Linked DNA regions of Homo sapiens: all the other regions are reported to be linked to region 1. The links are microRNA targets in miRTarBase. Many come from high-throughput screens and were not tested one by one. Region 1 holds a microRNA gene; each other region holds the end of a gene's coding sequence.

Region 1 (3,000 bases):
ACTGTCCTCCCCACCTCTACCCCCACCCAATTCTCTGTCTTACCATACAGCCCTGCAGAGCCACAAACAGCCGAAGAATGTCATTTGTCCCCTCAAAGATCCGGAAGATGCGAAGATCTCGGAGCACACGCTCTACTCCAGGTTCCTAGCACAGGGCCACACAAATTATATGCCCGTGCTGAGATGTGCCTACCCACCCCTGGCCCAGCCGAGGCTCTGCAGAAGACCGTCCTGTACCTTCATGAAGCCCATACCCCCCATGATTTGGATGCATTCATCTGTCACCTTCCAGGCTGCCTCCTAGGGACAAAGAACAGATGAGACTGGTTTTGGGAGCTGAGCACCCAAACTGGACTCCCTCCCAGCATGCCTGGGACCTCACCGAGCCAAAGATTTTGCTGATGGCGGCCTCTATCTGGAAGTCCGTGGCTCCCTGGTCCATGTTAGCACTCACCATGTAAGCCATGGACTGAGGTTGCATAGTTGGGACATGGGAAGGAAAATTGCAAAGGGCTTTGTCAGACTTGGCCTCATCACCCAGATCTCCAAGATAAGGGCTGACCTAGCTTGTCAGGTCAGGCAGATACTTGTTCTGGGTCAGTTCATCAGGTGCTTCCAGGTATTTGTTTTCTTAAAAGGGGTGGATGTAAGGGATGAGGTAGAATTAACTTCTGGTACTGCTGGCAGGCACCTGAGCAGAACATCATTGCTGTCTCTCTTCGCAGAAGCTGAGCTGACTATGCCTCCCCGCATCCCCTAGGGCATTGGTGTAAAGCTGGAGACCCACTGCCCCAGGTGCTGCTGGGGGTTGTAGTCTGACCCGACTGGGAAGAAAGCCCCAGGGCTCCAGGGAGAGGGGCTTGGGAGGCCCTCACCTCAGTTACATACTGCAGCATAACCATCCGTGCCAGCTTCTCCTGGATCAGCCCAAAGTTGTGAATTTTCTCCCCAAACTGGGTACGATTAGTGGCATGATCTACCTGGAAGAGGGTCCACACATCCCGCTGTGGTTCAGTGTGGTTCTGCAGTCTCCCTAGGAGAGGGGCTGGGCTTGCGCCAGAGGGATGGGTTTTGCATACAACCAGAGTTCAGTCTACGCTGGATGGAGACCTAAGCTAGCAAGTCGGGCTGCTGGTAGGGGAGGAGTTTCTAGTGTAGGGAGTGCCTGCAAGTGATCAGGGACACATGGCAAGGGGGACAGTGAGACTTCTGTTTGGGTTACCTAGGGACTCGGGCAGGGTACTCACCGCCTTAGCAATGATGCCTCTCATGGTACCTGCCAGGGCCGCAGCCATGCCAAACCTTCCATTGTTGAGGATGTGCATGGCAACCTTGAAGCCACTCCCAACCTCACCCAGCACGTTCTCCGATGGCACCCGTACTCCATCAAAGAACACCTCTGCTGTGTTTGAAGCCTTGATGCCCATCTTCTTCTCAGGGGGCCCACTGTGTCAGGGCAGTGTGGGAAAGCAGAGGTGTGTTCAACAGGTTGTCACTGGGGGAAAAACTGCTCCTTCGCTCCTTATGCACCAGGGAGGAATGACGACCACTAGACTATTAGAGGCTACAGCCACCACTTCCCCTCAGGCCCTGAGGGCTAAGGAGGCCTGGCTATGTCCTATTTTGTGTTGGACTTGGTTGCTGGAGCCAAAACTTTAGCTCAGTTGCATACATATTAGTCCCAAAGGCCACATTCAGTCCACCTGCTTTGGCTTTTGCACACGTCCCCAGGGTGACTTGCAACAGCCATCTGCCCAGGAGCCCAGTCCTGCCCCTCAGTCCTAAGCTCCCCCAACCCAAATTCACTCACTGGGTAATGCCCCCGAAGCCCCTCTCCACCACAAAAGCTGTGATCTTCTCCTTCACGGCTCCTGTGGCTGGATCTGTAACTGGTGTCTTGGCAAAGACCGTGAAGATGTCTGCTAGGCCCCCATTACTGTGGAAGAATGGGATATTCAGGGCGTGGAGGACGGGGAGCAGTGGGGCCTGGAATTGGGCGGAGGAGAAGGGGAGAAATGGGAGGCAGGTTGCCTGATCCAAAGCTTGCTTCCATTGAGGGTATAGTATTTTCCACAGGGGCTGGGCACAGCAGAGGTTCGGATGGAGGCTGCATCTGACCCGCTTGAGGGCTCGGTTAGACAGAAAGCGGCCACAGTCTCCCCTGTTGGGGAGAGAGCTACTTTACCCCAAGTTCTGATGAGCTTCAAAGTCCCCTCGGCCCACTTCCCCATCCCTCCAGCAGGCAGTTCCCCCTTAACACCTGGGAGTATCCAGTTCTTTTGCATGTCCCAACCAGCACACTGTGATGCCTCCCCAAAACCTTCCCCCAACTGAAATGCTCAGCCATCTGATAATCTAAGTGCCAACTGGCCTAATCTGTGCCAAGCCCAGTGTGCCCCCCAATCCCTGGCTCTCCTAGGGTTGCCTCACCAGATGCCAGCTTGGGGAGGTATTTTTCTTTCTGGGCCTTTGTGCCAAAGAGCAGGATGCCTTTGAAACCGATGCTCTGATGGGCCCCCAGGGTAATGCCCACGCCAAGGTCATGCATGCCCACGATCTCCACCAAACGGGCGTACTGGAGGGGAAGCAGGAATCTGGGGTTGTCACTGGCTGCAGGGGGACCTGACCTTAACAGGAGAGTGTGGGCAACAGGGCAGTTCCTGACCTAGGGCAGTTCCTGACCTAGGGCAGTGCCTGACCTGGGCCATCCCCAGTGTGTAGAAAAGAAGTGGGGTGTGCAAAGGGCACAGCAGAGAATGCTGGTCTGTCTTAGGTCTAGGTAGGAGGGTGACTTGCTACTAGTCAGTCTATTGTTAGGCAATCCCCAACTTAGAGATTTGTAAGGACTTGGGAACCAGGGTGAGGCCCATGGCTCAGGCCTAGGGGACTGCATGTAAATTGTGTTATGTTTGGACAGTTAACATCCATCCCACAGGCACCCAGGGCAGGTGCTTAGAAGAGACCTTAGCCCTAGTCTCTAGGTCTATGGCAAAAGAGCTG
Region 2 (3,092 bases), not on the chromosome of region 1:
TCATTTAATCCTCACAACCCACCTATGAGGTAAATGCTATAATTATCCCCACTCTACTGAGGAGGAATTAAAGTACAGACAGGTTAATGTGCTCCGAGTCACACAGCTATTGGAAGAGATAGGATTTAAACCCAAACATTTTGTCCCTTAAACTTACCTTCCCAACACATGGCCCTGTTTCTCAATGCATGTGCACTGTCTCTGTTTAAAGTAAGGGAAATCATTTCCTAAGGAGTGATGCAAGTCAAGCTGTTTGCTGGGAGTTCTCTAATATCCTTGTTGTTTATATCTCCTAGGTGTTTTTCCAGGTCTGACCATCTTGCCCTCCACATGAAGAGACATATCTAAAAAACCGAAAGGCCAGAGTTGCCATGGCATCGGCTAGTGTCTAAAGGAAACGCCATGAGGCAGGGGGCTGGACTTCAGGCGGGGACCCATTGCCTCGCAGAAGAAAGTTCTCACTTATAAACCTCTGTACACACACACACACACACACACATATACACACACTCACAGACCCACACACATACACACTGTCATGCACTCAACTATATTTAAAATATATACGTCTATTCTTTATGCCTTGCCCTAGCCAGATGGAAGAAGATGAAGAAGGAAACCAGGTGAACTCAGCAAGGCAGACTGGCTGCTTACTTCAGCACTATTGGAATTATTTCCCGCTGTTGCCAATGGAAATCAAAGAAAATGGATGTGACGTCTGTGCAGGTGGACGGCAGTCCGAGGGGCTTATTTCACTTGCTTCTCAGTGCAACTTGATAGGAGAATCCAGCATCTTAAAGTTGCATATGTGTAGCACTAATGTTTCTTTTTAAATAGTTGGGGGAAAATGACCTAGAAAACCAAATTGCAGTTTGGTAGCCAAAATTAACTCTTGGTTTATTTGTCCTTTGTGTGTGAAAAGTCCTACTATTCCGTGCGTCAGACTTCCTCACAGAACTGTTGACTGGTTTTGGTTCTTAGTACTATTGAGATCTTTCGCGTCGATCCCAACGGCCTTAGCGGCGGCAGACTGGAATAACACCTTACACCTTTCTGGCCTGCATTTCTGTAGACTTCACTCTCAAGGGAGGAGTTTTCTTTTCTTACGTTTTGACTTTTGCACACCATATGCACTAGGGATTCTGGAAACTTCTAGCATGACTGCAAAGTGGCCAAGAGAATAAAGTCCTTGATGATAAATCACAGTATATCCCTTGAGCCTCACCTTATTGCCAGTGCTAGATTTTTTCTTTTTAATCTCTCCGTTTTTGCTAACGAAAACTTGAAAAGCTTATTTGGAAGCTTAAATGTTTTATCTTTTCTCCATGGACTAAACCTCTCCAGGACTCTCTCGGCACCTGGATGTCCAGCTCTCGAAGCAGCCAGTCAGATGGGACATCACAGTTCTCTCATCCTCCTTGAGGCATGATGACCTCAGCTCATAGTGATCAACCGTTGTGCTGTGTGTCATTGCTACCCCATAACCAGTTACAGCATAGATGTCGCTAGTCTCAGAGGGCAGCTGCGTATTTAATTTAACTCTGGTTTATGACCTGACAAAAAGCCAAAAATATCACTCTTTCCAGGAGTGGGGAAAACTGAGGATGCCTCCCAAGTCTAGTGGCTTCACAAAAGATCATCCTGTCTTCTCTGTCATGCCCACTGAGCTCCTATTCCCCTACGTGTTACAATACACAATTTAAAACGCCATTGTGGGAGTGAAGGGTTGACATTTAAGGAAAAGGTTGAGGTGTTTCTCTCATGGGCTGTCTAAAAGGAGAGACACGTTTCTTTCTTTCCTTTTTTTTTTGGCTAGGCCCACCATGACTTGTGACCTAGAACCCCCAGGATTAACAGAGGCCTCACATTTACTCTGCAAGCTGACTCCAAAGGAGTCTACAGTCCTTACTTGTCATGCCACACTCACACATCCAGTAGTGGTCTCTATCTACCCGCATTCCTAGCTAGCTGGCACTGGCCTCAACTCCAAAGACTGCCTTTAGGACCATCAAATGGCCTATGCAAGCAAGCGGGGTGGTTATTAGGACAGATTGTATATTTTGTATATTCTGGGACCATCCCTTCAAGACACGTCTATAAAACAAAAATGGCGCTTGGTCCACACACGGTTGCTGCTCCCTCCTACCAGCTGGCTCCCCTCCTGTCCTCCTTTGACTGTTTGACTCATTGACTGTTAAAATGCCACCCCATACATATTTGGGATGCAAAACTGAAGTCAAAAGGAAATAATATAAGAAACACAAACACATATATGACAGCAACCTTCAAGATCTGGGTTTTCAGCTTTCTGCAACCTTTGTTTTCACTGAAATGTTGAAACTACTCGTCTGAGGGCAAAGGAACCTCCTCACAAATGCTATAGCTGCCAATTGGACACTTGGGGCATTTCGAGGTCTGGCCCTAAGAATTTACTTTCTCCTTTTCCTTTTTTCTATTTAGACCAAAAAAAACAAAAACAAAAACAAAAAAAAAAACAAAATAATACAAAACGAAAAAAAAAGAAAGAACACCCGTTAACACACACGCGCACACACACACAAAATCTGTCCATTTGCCGGAGGCAATTGTATGTATGTTAGTTGGAGGGTATTAAAAATCAGTTTTATTCCAAAGATTTAAAACTAGACATGACTTAAAAACAATTTCTGGAGCACTGCTTGCTGACAATCTCGTAGTTCTCTGCTGCATTTGAGTGCATTTTGTGGCCAGTCCATCAGGGCGTACCATGGGATTATATTTGAATGTGTGGTGCATCCTTCCTGGATGAAGGATGTGTGAGGGACCTTGAACCTCAGCTGTATTAAACTGTAGCGCCTCCAGTCAGTGCACTAGATGAAACTTTTAGACACCCTGAATTCTGTTGGTTCCTTTCTTTTCCTTTATGTAGCAGCCTCCAGCATGAATGCACGCACACGCCAGTGATGGCATTAAGCCATGGCCACCACGATTTGCAAATGTTCTCTCCCAAGCTGGAGCTGCTCTTGCCTCTCGAATGCTATTATTAAGGGTTTATAATACTTAATTTAATTTTCGAACTGACCAATGCAAGGCTCTATTAAAAAGAAAGTTTA
Region 3 (3,092 bases), not on the chromosome of region 1:
CTGCCCCTGCAGAGAGGACACCACCTCTGTGATTTCCCAGGTTTACAGGCTTTCCAGGAGGGAAACCCCAGCCACACTCTGCTCAAAATGCCAGTGGTTTTGGGAGCCATCTCACCTGACTGTGTACACCAAGTAACATGGACAATTAGGTGAGGGGACTGGTAGACATGGCGGGGAGGCAAACGTGGAGGACAGAAGATGTGGGCTTGGATCCCAGTTCTCCTACTTATTAGCTGTGAAAACTGAGACAATTATTGAACCTCAGAGCCTGGGTTTCTTCTTTTATGAGAGAATAATTCCTTCCCTCTAGAGTTTTTGTGGGAATTAAATAAGATAATTATTGTGAACCTGCTGAGTCCAGTTTCTGACCTCAACAAGACAGTCAATAAATGGCTGAGATTATTCCCCACCACCTCACTCCCAGGGGTCAGAGTTTTCTGTCCAGTTGTTCCATTACCCATACTGTCTCTTAGTATGTACTGATGAGCTCTTGTTTGCAAAAGCTTTATCCTCTTGGAGCAATTTCTTCAGAGCCATGCTGGTGTCAGCCAGCTGGTCAGTCTAGCAGCCTTGAGGCTTTACTGGCCCATTGCTCTGGTCAGATCACATGCAAATAAAGGGCTCCCTTCCCTCATCTTGTTCAAGACCACTTAGCTTACTAGGAAATAACAAGATAATCAAAATCACTCACTCCTTCCTTGTACCAAATATTTTCATGGGCTTATATTTAATCCATATTCACTGCCATGTGCAATGAGACTGAGTACATTCAAGTCGGCTCTAGCACTCTAGACTTCTGGCCCCTGTCTTCCCTTTTGGTCCAACTCTTGGTCCTGGACCAAACTTATCCCCGCTAACCTGAAGATTAGGAAGAGGAAGAACTAGATAGAAATGATGGCTCAAGTGCATCAATGTGTCCAGTGATTCTCAAACTTTGCTGCCCATTAGAATCACTTGTGGAGTTTTAAAGATTCCTGGTGTTCAAGCCACACCATGGACCAATTAAATTGGAATATCTGGGCATGAGGACCAGGCAGAGTATTAAGTCTGAGAACCAGTGACTTAATTGCTGTTGCTAGTTTGCCTGTATCAGTGTTGTCTACCATGGACTGTAAGTTCTGGAACAAGAAGAACCACATGTATCCCACTTTATAGCATTCCATGTGGAGTCAGACACACAGCCAATGCTTCCGATGATGATGGAATACCTCAATCTGTTTGTAATTAACTCTGAAATTGGAATATGGTGTATTCCAGGATCACACATATGTCCTGAAGTCATAGATGATAAACATTTTATTACACTAAAAAAGTCATCTGTTAACTGCTGAACTGCAGGGGGACCACATGTGAGGCTACTTCAGAAAAATGGCATCAGATAACATATATAGATTTCTGGCATTATAAAATGGCTAGATTCTCCCCTACCTTCCCTCATTAAATATTAATCAGTGGCTTAGGTCAGTTCTAGTGGGAACACTTAATTGCTGACTTCACATAAAACCAGGATTAGCCTAATGTGCCAATGGTATGAGTCCATTCCTGGCCATCTTCCCAACAGCCAGACCGCTGTGGCTTGGACACCGGAGGCAACATCTGGGGGGCCTCAGTTCCACTCCTCTGTGGTGAGCTTGCTCTTCCTAATAACTGGCTCTGGAGTCACATCAACAATGGTGGCATTGCCATCTGGGGCCCACATGAGCCCTCTGGGGCGTGCTGCATCCCTACTGGGCTGCGGTGGGGCTCTGAGGTTGGGACCAGCAGCCTGAGCCTGGTTCCACTTCACTACACAGCAAATTGTATACCCAAGGGAGTGGTTATGACTTGCTGCTCCTCATTCATGTGAGGAAGTGGTGCCTTGCCTGGGATCCTGTGTGTCAGAACCACAGCAGGCCTGGGAGGCACATCCAGCTGGGGTTGGGGAGGACAGGCCTGCATGACAGAGCTGGGGAGTGGTGGGGACACAGGCAGAGGAACCAGCACTGCCTGCCTTTTGATTCAAAGCAACTTCAGAAGATCCCTGTGTCCATTTCCACATATTGGTTATTTGAACATTTCCTAAATGACTTCCTCATCCAGCCTGAAGGCAAAGAGACCATTCACTACCATCTGGAGGCTCAGTTAGCAGTTCCAAGTGGCTGGCACATTGCACCTGAGTCCTGCAGTTCCTCAGGCTGGCCTCAAATTCCCGAGAAGTGCCTAAGGCAGAGCCATTTCCCAGATCCGCAGGCTTCCTGGCTGCTCGAGGGGCACTGCTCCTTCCTGCTCCCACCAGCAGTGTCTCTGATGGCTTCCCATGGGATCAGATGGCCTCCTCTACCTGCAGTGTGGGTGGGGGGTGAGGGGCAGGATGTCCAACCCCCTCCTCAGTAGCTCATATTTCTCCTTTGCCCAGCTCACCTTCACCCCAGCACCAGGCCACACTACAGAGGCACACTGTTGACTGCAGTCTGCCACAGGACCGAGGTCAACAGTCAAGACATTTGTCTTTTCCCTTCCCCTGGGCCAGCAGACATCGCCCCCTCATCCCAGGCCTGGAAGGAGGTTCCTCAGAGGCCCTCGTGGTAGCTGCAGCCTCCTGGCTGTCAATCTTGCACCAGGAAGTTGATGAGGGCAGTTCTCGGGGAAAGGAAGGACTTCTTGATGCTTCGTCCTTGCAAAAGCCTGACACCCAGCTCGCTTTGAAGAACAAATTCGTGGACTTTGTCCTGGTCCCGGGCAACTTGTTGGGGCACAGGAATTTTGCCACAAGCTTTATTGTTGATCTGAGAAGGAGAAAAGCCAAGATAAACAATGAGGAACATCCTCAGAGTGGCAGGCGGCCCAATACCAAACCTCCTGCCTGTAAAGGGCATGGCTGCATTTGTTTAGGGGAAAGGAATAGAGGTGGAGAAAGGAGGAAGTCAGCACTCTGCTTCCCATAAGGGTAAAATGCAACCAGCTGAATAGGATTAATGCCTAGACCTGCAGAAAGAGACCGACACTGAGACTGCATGTGAGTGCCCGTACGTGGAGTGAGGACCGCCTTGCATTTTCTGAGCACTGCTCCCATACACAGCTGTGGTAGAGATTATGTCAAAAAGCCTCAGCAT
Region 4 (3,092 bases), not on the chromosome of region 1:
AAAAGTTTGAACTAGGCTGCGGTGCCCCAGGGTGCCGTGATGTACAGTTTGGGAGCCAGGGGAGGGATAGGAACAGGTGGGAATCGTGAGGAAGGGCTCTGAGTCGAGTCTGGCGTGGCCACCTGGCTCAGCCCCTCAGCTGTGTGAACTGGGACCTGTGTGGTTGGGGGATAGCAGGTAGCGTGAGGACCCCTGGAGGTCCACATCTGCACGCCCGTAAGCGCTCTGCACACGGCCATACAGTCACTTGCATCTGGCTGCAGACTCCGACTCTGCCCTTTGGTAACGGCTGTAGAGGGGATGATAGGAGCTGACCTAGGACGCTTGGGGGGATTCAGTGCTGGAGTTTCCTGTGCAGAGAGCCCCGACCTCTTTCTGCCCCCAGGGACTGCTACTACGACAACTCCACCACTTGTCCCAAGTGTGCCCGGCTCAGCCTGAGGAAGCAGTCGCTCTTCCAGGAGCCAGGTCCCGATGTGGAGGCCTAGCGCCGAGGAACAGTGCTGGGCACCCCGCCTGGCCCGCCAGGACCCACCCTGCCAACATCAAGTTGTTCCTTCTGCTCCGGAGACCCCTGGGGTGCGGCCCTGGCCCCCTCCACCCCTGCTGGGCCAGAGCGGGTGGGCAGTGTCAAGGCCCGCTGTCTCCCAGGTGCTTGCTGGGACTCGGGGCGGCTGCACCTGGCTGTCACCTGGGTGTGCTGCTGTGAGGGGTCCTTGCGTGGCCCCCATCCTTCCCCCAATGCAGAACTCCATGGGCAGGGAGCTGGGGGGACATCTCACCTCCCCCATGGCACAGAGCCCTCCACACCCCTGGACCAGGGCATCCGGGCCCTAGAAATTCCACAGCTCCCGTCCTGGCCACCCTGGAAGCTCATCAGGCCAAGACCCGGACAGAGCTTCAGAGGAGTGTTGAGTGACACCTGAGGATGCGGCTGCACACACTCAGCCAAGGGCCGAGTCTCACCTGCGGTGGGGTGTCGGCTCTGCCTGGGGGCTCCATCCCTTTCAGCCACTCGTGGCCTTGGGGATTTCTGGTTGTCCCCAGCTGGGACTGTTCACAGTTGTCACCTGCAGACCTGCCTCTCCCTGGCCTGAGGTTCAAAGGCCTCATCGGATGGTCAGTACAGTGGGGTCACCTGTTGTTTCTATACAACAGCAGGGAAGGGGCCATGGAGCTTTTCCCTGCTGGGTGCTCCTGCTTTGGCCCAGCCCACCTTTCCTGGTGCTCCAAGCTAGGAGGCTGTGGCCCCAGCCTGAGGAGGGTGTCCTGGCCTCCAGGTGTGCAGCAGGGGCTGTGTGCTGGGGGAGGTTCCAGTTAGGCGATGGGATCCTGCAGTGGTCTGGTGGCATTTCTTGGAACCAGATTTACCTGAGGAGCTCTGTCCTGCTCCCTGTGGAGGGCTCCAGATAGCTCAGAAATGACCAGCCAATGGCCTTTTGTTTGGGGGCCTGAGGTCAAGAGAGCTGAGAGTATTCGCTCGACTGAGCACATTCAGGAAGATCAGGGCAGGCGTGTGGGAGGTCCCTCACTCCACGGGACAGAGGCCCCTGGGCAGCAGAGGAAACCTACAGCTCTGGGTGAGGGGACACTTGGCTTTGGTGTTTGCACTTTACAGATCCTGCGGTCCACGAGGGGCCTCAGGAGAGGACGTGTCAGGACGTGGCTTCCCAGCCTTCTGCCTTGGGCAGTGGGGGTGCTCCTGTCTGTCCTTTTCCCCCACACCCTGGACTGTGCTTGGCTGTTGGTGCACATGGTTGGCACACGGTGGGCAGAGGGCAGAGAATGCCACTGCTTGGTTATTGGTCCCCTTTGACCAGGAAACCCAAGAGGAGACACCTCAGTCAGCAGAAAGGCCACCTGGCTCACTGGCTCATTCCAGGAGTGGGAGAGACGGCAGGGTCTCCTCTTTGTCCTCCGGCATCAGGAAGGGGATGGTGTCCACTCCCCACTGTGGTGGCTTTAGGCAAGGTTCTTATTGTCTGCTCTGCCTCGGTTTCCCCATCTGGAAAATGGGGGCAGGGGTCCTGACCTACCTCAGGTGGAACGGTGAGCAGGGAACATGTCGGAGTCCTTCAGAGAATGTGATGTGAGGTTGGATCAACAGTGTGGGTTCCTGTCCTGTTTCCCCTTCCTCTTTGGGGCTGAGGAGGAGGTTAAAGGCCAAATGCTGTTTCCCAACACCCCAAAGTCTGCACACGTCTCATGAATGCATCACATTTCTGTCATATGGATATTAGCCATTCCGAAATCTGTGTAATCAACTTCACATTATTCAAGTTACAAATCACTGTGTCCATAGAAAAACTGTGCTGGTATTTGCTGGACAAAGGGTTGGGCCCCTTTTATTTTTACCTGCCACCCAGCATCTCCCCCACCTGCCCCTTCTGGGTGACACAGCCGGTAAACGGAATCACGTATGGTTCTTTCTGTGGGTCTGTGGCACAGCAGGAAGAGCCCGGTGCCGCCAGCACCTTGTGGAAGACCACACATGGGTGGTCCCACAGCATGGGACCAGGCTGGCCTGAGGGATGCCCAGTTGTAACAATGCTGCTGTCACTGTCTCATTAAATATACATCCTTTAGCCTGGTGTGTGTGTGGTGAATTGCGGACAAAGTAAGAGAAATTGGTCTGTTGACATACAAGTCATTTGCAGGCTTAGGAAAGACAGCCTTTGCCATCCAATGGGGTTGAATGTAATCTGGTGTGAGGCGAAGTAACATGTCCTGATTGGTTGGGAGAACTACCTGTGGTATCACACAGACGTGTTGAACGTCTCTGGGCCCAAGCTGTTCTCCGGCCTCCGCCTCCCGGGCCCAAGCTGTTCTCCGGCCTCCGCCTCCCGGGCCCAAGCTGTTCTCCGGCCTCTGTCTCCTGAGTAGCTGGGACTACAGGTGCATGCCACCATGCCCAGCTAATTTTTTGAATTTTTATTAGAGACAGGGTTTTACCATGTTGGCTAGGCTGGTCTCAAACTCCTGACCTCAGGTGATCCTCCTGCCTCGGCCTCCCAAAGTGCTGGCATTACAGGTGTGAGCCACGGCGCCTGGCCAGGCATTGATTTTTCTTAGTGTCCGATGTCCTTCCAGAA

Evidence for each region. Region 1 holds the annotated microRNA hsa-miR-324-5p (CGCAUCCCCUAGGGCAUUGGUG, at 749-770, shown strand). A microRNA usually pairs through its seed, bases 2 to 8, with sites in the 3' UTR of a target mRNA and lowers its output. Matches are read on the target gene's strand: a 7mer-m8 pairs with bases 2 to 8, a 7mer-A1 pairs with bases 2 to 7 and ends in A, and an 8mer does both.
Region 2: miRTarBase lists KLF7 as a target of hsa-miR-324-5p. Seed matches in the 3' UTR shown: 8mer at 2,220-2,227.
Region 3: miRTarBase lists LARS2 as a target of hsa-miR-324-5p. Seed matches in the 3' UTR shown: 8mer at 1,718-1,725.
Region 4: miRTarBase lists DEF8 as a target of hsa-miR-324-5p. Seed matches in the 3' UTR shown: 7mer-m8 at 2,529-2,535.

What each region holds. Positions count from the first base shown.
Region 1 is chr17:7,221,113-7,224,112 of GRCh38, reverse strand. MIR324 (microRNA 324) reads left to right here and starts at 734; the gene lies at 734-816. ACADVL (acyl-CoA dehydrogenase very long chain) reads right to left here. Exons shown (of 20, transcript NM_000018.4): 7 at 2,431-2,575; 8 at 2,032-2,161; 9 at 1,811-1,936; 10 at 1,248-1,446; 11 at 876-980; 12 at 383-469; 13 at 238-300; 14 at 44-145.
Region 2 is chr2:207,078,469-207,081,560 of GRCh38, reverse strand. It overlaps KLF7 (KLF transcription factor 7), which reads left to right. Exons shown (of 4, transcript NM_003709.4): 4 at 297-3,092. The coding sequence ends at 348. Among named protein-coding and RNA genes, the nearest start is that of MIR2355, 30 kb to the left of the region's middle.
Region 3 is chr3:45,547,024-45,550,115 of GRCh38, reverse strand. LARS2 (leucyl-tRNA synthetase 2, mitochondrial) reads right to left here. Exons shown (of 22, transcript NM_015340.4): 22 at 709-2,765. The coding sequence ends at 2,586. Among named protein-coding and RNA genes, the nearest start is that of LARS2-AS1, 39 kb to the right of the region's middle.
Region 4 is chr16:89,965,476-89,968,567 of GRCh38, forward strand. It overlaps DEF8 (differentially expressed in FDCP 8 homolog), which reads left to right. Exons shown (of 13, transcript NM_001242818.2): 13 at 386-2,585. The coding sequence ends at 488. Among named protein-coding and RNA genes, the nearest start is that of SNORA119, 14 kb to the left of the region's middle.